Linked DNA regions of Homo sapiens: region 2 is linked to region 1. Evidence: fine-mapped expression QTL. A gene starts in region 1. The other region holds a variant in brackets. All regions are shown on one strand. Distances are between the middles of the regions. Region 1 holds the start of DAPK1 (death associated protein kinase 1). Region 2 holds the start of DAPK1-IT1 (DAPK1 intronic transcript 1).

What was found.
Region 2: its variant is fine-mapped to the expression of DAPK1 in whole blood (TOPMed, PIP 0.98).

What each region holds. Positions count from the first base shown.
Region 1 is chr9:87,496,177-87,499,083 of GRCh38, reverse strand. DAPK1 (death associated protein kinase 1) reads right to left here and starts at 1,217. Exons shown (of 26, transcript NM_004938.4): 1 at 977-1,217; 2 at 1-114. The coding sequence starts at 6. RefSeq lists silencers at 259-368, 579-768, 1,139-1,488, 1,509-1,568 and an enhancer at 111-868.
Region 2 is chr9:87,553,281-87,556,187 of GRCh38, reverse strand. All of the region lies in intron 2 of DAPK1 (death associated protein kinase 1), which reads right to left. DAPK1-IT1 (DAPK1 intronic transcript 1) reads right to left here and starts at 2,734. Exons shown (of 2, transcript NR_146781.1): 1 at 2,598-2,734; 2 at 1,729-2,293. RefSeq lists an enhancer at 185-354. The variant T/G (reference allele first, on the strand shown) is at 1,064.

The DNA of each region.
Region 1 (2,907 bases):
GGTCATGATAAACTGTCACGCCTCACCAAAGCCCAGGGCACTTCAGCTCCGCTTCCCAGACCATCACCACCGCTCCTGCGCCTCCGTAGCCCCCTCATGCATCAGTCTCCAGTCCTTTTGAAGAAAAAAAAAAGGCAATAATAATAGTAAAATGGCAACCCCAAAAGGAAGTAGACCTCCCCGGCGCTAAGACCCCGCTCGCTGAAGACCGGGTCTCCGGAGCTGCCCCTCCTCGCGGGGTGGAGAGGAGCACCCTTTGTTAAAGCTGGGCGGCCAGGGACGCCCCCGACCCCTCAGCCCCGCGCGCGCGTGGGGCCGGGCACCACGGCACCCCGAGGTCGGCGTCCCCAAACGCTGGGCGGTCTGTTGGGATCAGAACCGGCTCCGGAAGTGACTGGCCTCCCCGCCTCCCCTTTCTCTGCACACATGCCCACCCAGCTTTCCCACCTCCAGGGACGCCGCGGAAGAATGAAGCCCTCGCCCAGACGGTACGCGCCTCACTGGGAGCAATCTCTCTCCAGCCTGCGGCAACGGTGGCACCCCCGCGCCACCTCTCGGCTCCCGCGCCTCTCCTAACACCGTGGCCACCCTCTCCCCTTCCCCGAGCGAGGCAGTCCCCAGAGCCACATTCCTGGCGACTCCCTCTCCGTTACCCGGCCGACCCGGCGTGCGGCCGCCCGGGGGAGCAAGGGAGGGAAGGGAGCGGCCCACCGAGGCGCAGCAGTTCGCTCCAGATCCTCGCGCCCCGACACAAAGCGCCTGGTCGGGCCGGCGCCACCTGTTCTCACCCGGCCCGCGGGGCTGGGGAAGCCTCCCGGCTGCGATCGCACTTCTCCCCGAAGCCAAGTTTCCCTCCGCCTTGGCCTTCCCAGTTGCTCGAGGCACTGCCCGGACAAACCCCACCGCGCCCTGGCTGGGAAAGCAAAAGCTGGCGCCGGGGGTCGGGGGGACCGGGGAGCCGCGCCTGGCTACTCACCCGGGCGCCTGGGAGCTCCCCCGGTCCCTCCGGAGCGCTGTCGGAGGCCGACCATAGGCGCCAGCGCCGGAGACTAGCCGGGGCGGCGGCGGGAACACAGCTAGGGAGTGAGTGGGGGGCGCAGATCCCTCCCAGGCGCCGGCCCCAGACCCTGCCGCTGCGAGTTGCCGAGTCCCCTCCGCGGAGGGAACAAAGTCCCCGGCGTTGGCTCGGTCCGGCTGTCCTCCTCACACTCCGAAGCAGCCTCTCGGCTCCTTGCCGCCTTTTGGGCGGAGGGCGGCCGGCAGGCGGCCAATGGGGACCCTGCAAGCGGGCTGGCGGCGCGGCCCACCCACCTCCGAGCTGCCCTGCCAGGCCGGCGCTGCGGGTTCTGCGCGGCGCTCGCTGCTCCTCCCAGCTCCGCGCTCCGGGCTCGCTGGCGCGCTCTACCGCGCACACCCCGCACACACCCACTCGCCCCACACCCACGCCGGCCGGGGAGCCAGTGCGTCCGCCCGGAACGCGGGCGCCCCACCTGTGACACATTGCTAAGCTGCCCTCTGACTGGGTTCTAGGGAAACACGGTTCTTCCGTCCCGAGATGTGTACTGGGATCCCAGCTTGTGCCGGGCACGGTGCTTGGTATGGGAAAATCACATAGAACAAAACAGATTTTTTTAAATCCCTGCCTTCCGGAAACCTGCATTCTGGTGGGACAGATAGATAATAAATATGTAAGCTAATTAATAAGGTAATTTTGGAGGATCAGTCCTACGTTTACCACGAAACAGGTTAATGGAATAGAGAATGGCAGGAAGGGAGCGTACCTCATTAGACTGGGTTCCTCTGCCGGACTGGTGTTGGAGCCGAGGCTTGAAGGCAAGAAGGTTTGCAATCTGAAGAAAGGGTTGAGGTCTCCGAGACCCAAAGAAGCAACAGAGACGCAGAGTTTATTTGCGCTATCCCATATGCTATTGGCTATTGTTGAGCTGAAATGTAGCTAGTCCCAAATTAATTGTGCTGTAAGTGTAAAATACACATTAGAGTCCAAGACAGTATGGATATGAGAATGAAAAATATCTCATGAATATTTTTATATTCATTACACTTTCAAATGATAGTATTTTGGATACGTTGGGTTAAACAAAATATATTATTAAAATTAATTTCACCTGTTTACTTTCTTTTTTTTGAGACGGAGTCTCACTCTGTCGCCAGGCTGGAGTGTAGTGGAGCGTGGCAACCTCCACCTCCAGGGTTCAAGTGATTCTCCTGCCTCGGCCTCCCCAGTAGCTAGGACTACAGTCGCGCGTCACCATGCCCAGCTAATTTTTGTATTTTTAGTAGAGACGGGGTTTCACCGTGTCGACCAGGATGGTCTCCATCTCTTGACCTCGTGATCCGCCCGCCTGGGCCTCCCAAAGTGCTGGGATTACAGGCGTGAGCCACCGCGCCCGGCCTCACCTGTTTACTTTTTAAAAGGTGGCCACTAGAAAATATAACAGTACCTATGTTGCTTGCATGAGATTTCTGAGGACTGTGCTGGTCTACACAAAGATCCCATATCCACTGGAGACCTCTATCCACTTTCTCTACTTCCCACCCCTTGCTCCCACCTAATGTTTGGGTGGAGACGAAGAAGGGTTGATTCCCCACATCCCACTGCTGGAGAACCCCAAACGGTGAAAAGCTCCTAAAGGGAAATCTATTTTACTGCCTAGAATGATGAAAACTGACAGATGAAGAGATTTCCGATCCATACCGTTGTTCAAATCCCCAGGCTTTCTAAACTGAGTTGGTTCAAATCTCTGTGGTTCAACAGAAATTTTCAACTGTGAAGATTTTGGCCTCTTGAAAACAAGGCAAAACAAAACAAAAGAATACCCCTCAGGCCTTATGTCAAATCCTAGTCTTTTTTTTTTTTTTGAGACGGGTTTTCGCTCTTGTGGCCCA
Region 2 (2,907 bases), 57 kb before region 1:
TGCATAAGTCATTATTAACTACATGTCCACCCAAAATGTCCTTCTATTTTTGGGTCCTGCATCACTGATGAGTTTCGGTGACGGAGATTAGAATACAAAAAAACAGTTCTTCATATGCCCCGGGCAGTAATTACCATGGTGGCATTTACTCTTGCTTCTTCCTTCATAATACCTCATTTTCTCATTCGTCTTTTTAGGAATAAAACAGAAGCTACTGACAACACGTACTAGTGACTACTTCCATTCCTCTAAATAATAATTTTCCCATGCAATTGTTTAATCATATTGATATGGAACTCGCCTAGCTTTTAGTTAGCCGGTAATTTGTTAACAGTGTGCTCTTGCATGACTGCATATTTGTTCTTAACGATAAGCTTTAAAGTGCTTCTGGCTGCAGTGGCTTACGCCTGTAATCCCAGCACTTTGGGAGGCCAAGGCAGGCAGATCACCTGAGGTCGGGAGTTCGAGACCAGCCTGACCAACATGGAGAAACCCTGTCTCTACTAAAAATACAAAATTAGCTGGGCGTGGTGGCGCATGCCTGTAATCCCAGCTACTCGGGAGGCTGAGGCAGGAAAATTGCTTGAACCCGGGAGGCAGAGGTTGCAGTGAGCCGAGATCACACCATTGCACTCCAGCCTGGGTAACAAGAGCGAAACTCCATCTCAAAAAAAAAAAAAATAACTAAATAAAATAAAGTGCTTCATGATAAATAAATTTCACTTTGTTTTTTCTGTTGTTGTTTGTGTTACTAATACTTCTTGAGGAAGTATATCAGATAGCCCCAGGGTGTCATTCTCATCTAGTCCTTGTGTCTGTGACAGAGAAGGAAAAGAGAGAAGGCAAAAGGGAGGGCAGATATGTTGCTTAAGAGGTCAAGACAAGGCTTAGCTGGGACCTAATTGTCTGACTTAATGTCTGCTTAAGAACGTGCTGTATTATGGAAATGCCCTAACGGGACAGCTAGATCAGGAACTGGGTTTTCTGGGACCATGAGGTTTAGAAATAAGGAACTTCCTTTGCTGACAAAAAGGGATGTTATGTAAACCCCCAAGTCCTTAAG[T/G]CATAATACTGAGGCTGCCCTTGAGGGCAGGGTGATGAGACCCTGGTGCACACCCACACAGCTTTCCCCACTTCTTTGCTCAGGACTCTTCAGAGGTCCCTGCAGGGTTCCTCCATGGTTCTAGAAAGTTCCTTGGCACTAAGAACCCTCTCCAGAGATCAAGGGGCCTCTACAACTGATACCATCATTAGATTCTCACTGTAGATTGTGGCAGAGAACTTGCCACCAGAAGGGCTTCCCTTTAATGACCTCCAGGAGAACTGGCTGAAGCCAAGGGCAGAAGCCCTGACACTCTCAGACCTCCGGTGGGGGTGGGGGAAATGGCTACACGGCCTGGGTGGGAGACAGCATCAGCTTCCTCCCTCCCGCCAGAGCAGTCAGGCCGAGGCCAGCTGATGGCACTTTGCTCATTTGGGTCCAGGTTGCCATGGAGATCAGCGATCTCCCTAGATGCCTCCTGACTATAGGAGCAACTAGCGCATTACTGCCGAGGGATCTACATGAGCGCCCTAAGTCCTACTGTGGAGAGGGCCTTCCTGTGGAAGGCTCCTAAGGGTGGTCCCATCCATCTTCTGGCTTGAGTCAAAGACAGAGTTCCAGCATAGTCACTGTTATGTCCGGAGGTAAAAATTCTTTAAACTGAATTTCCTAGATGAAGTAAAGACTTTTTTTTTTTTTAGTATTACATTTTATTTTTACTGCTTCTTCCAGTATTGCACAATCCCATAATTATTGCTATTCAGCTAAAAACATGCCTCGAGGCATTGCAGAAGATGAGAATAATAATTTTAAAAACTGGAGTCAGCAACACGAACTCTTGAAAGCACTAGTATAAAAGCATTCAAGAAATAACTTCCTCTGGCTTCCTTGGACTTGTTTAAGAGATTACTAATGGCAAAATCAAGTGGAAATTTTAATGGATCAGTAGGTCTTTATGAACTATAAGTTCCCCAGATGAAAATCAAAATGCTGCTCGTGATGTATGCCTTAGAACAGGATTGCTGACCTAAGGTCTGGGAACCTGCTAAGGCTGTGGGCTTATGCACTGAGTATTTGAGAGCATTTTTCTGAAAAGGGGAGCACATAGCTCTCAACTACTCTCCAAGGGGGTCCCCCAAATGTTAAATTTAGAGTTTGCTTAGTTGACAGCAGAGTTTCCCGATCGGGTTCCCTTTTGTTGTTCTAGTGAACAGGTAAAAACTCAGTGAAAGGCAGACTGGGAATGTTCTCCTGCCTCCCTTTCTGCCCACAAGCCACATGTCTCATCCTTTTTCTTCCGCTTCCTCTCCTTATTGCCCTCATCTGTGGAATATTGAAAATAAATATTGAGGCCGGGCATGGTGGCTCACGCCTGTAATCCCAGCACTTTGGGAGGCCCAGGCGGGCGGATCACTTGATGTCAGGAGGTCGAGACCAGCCTGGCTAACAGGGCAAAACCCCGTCTCTATTAAAAATACAAAAATTAGCCGGGCATGGTGGCACACACCTGTGATCCCAGCTACTCGGGAGGCTGAGGCAGGAGAATCACTTAAACCTGGGAGGTGGAGGTTGCAGTGAGCCGAGATCGCACCACTGCACACCCGCCTGGGCAACAGACCGAGACTCCATCTCAAAAAAAAAAAAAAAAAGAAAAGAAAAGAAAAAGAAAATAAATATTGAGCACCCTAAGCACCAGACATAGTGCTCAGGGCTTGGGATACAGGGACAAACAAGACACAGCCCATGTCCTTAAGGAGCGGAGAATCGGATAAAAGAAAAGATCCCATGAATGGTTAACTGAATGCACATATTAATTATCAAGAAGCATATGCACAGGATGATGGCAAAGGCAGAAAGACTGCTGT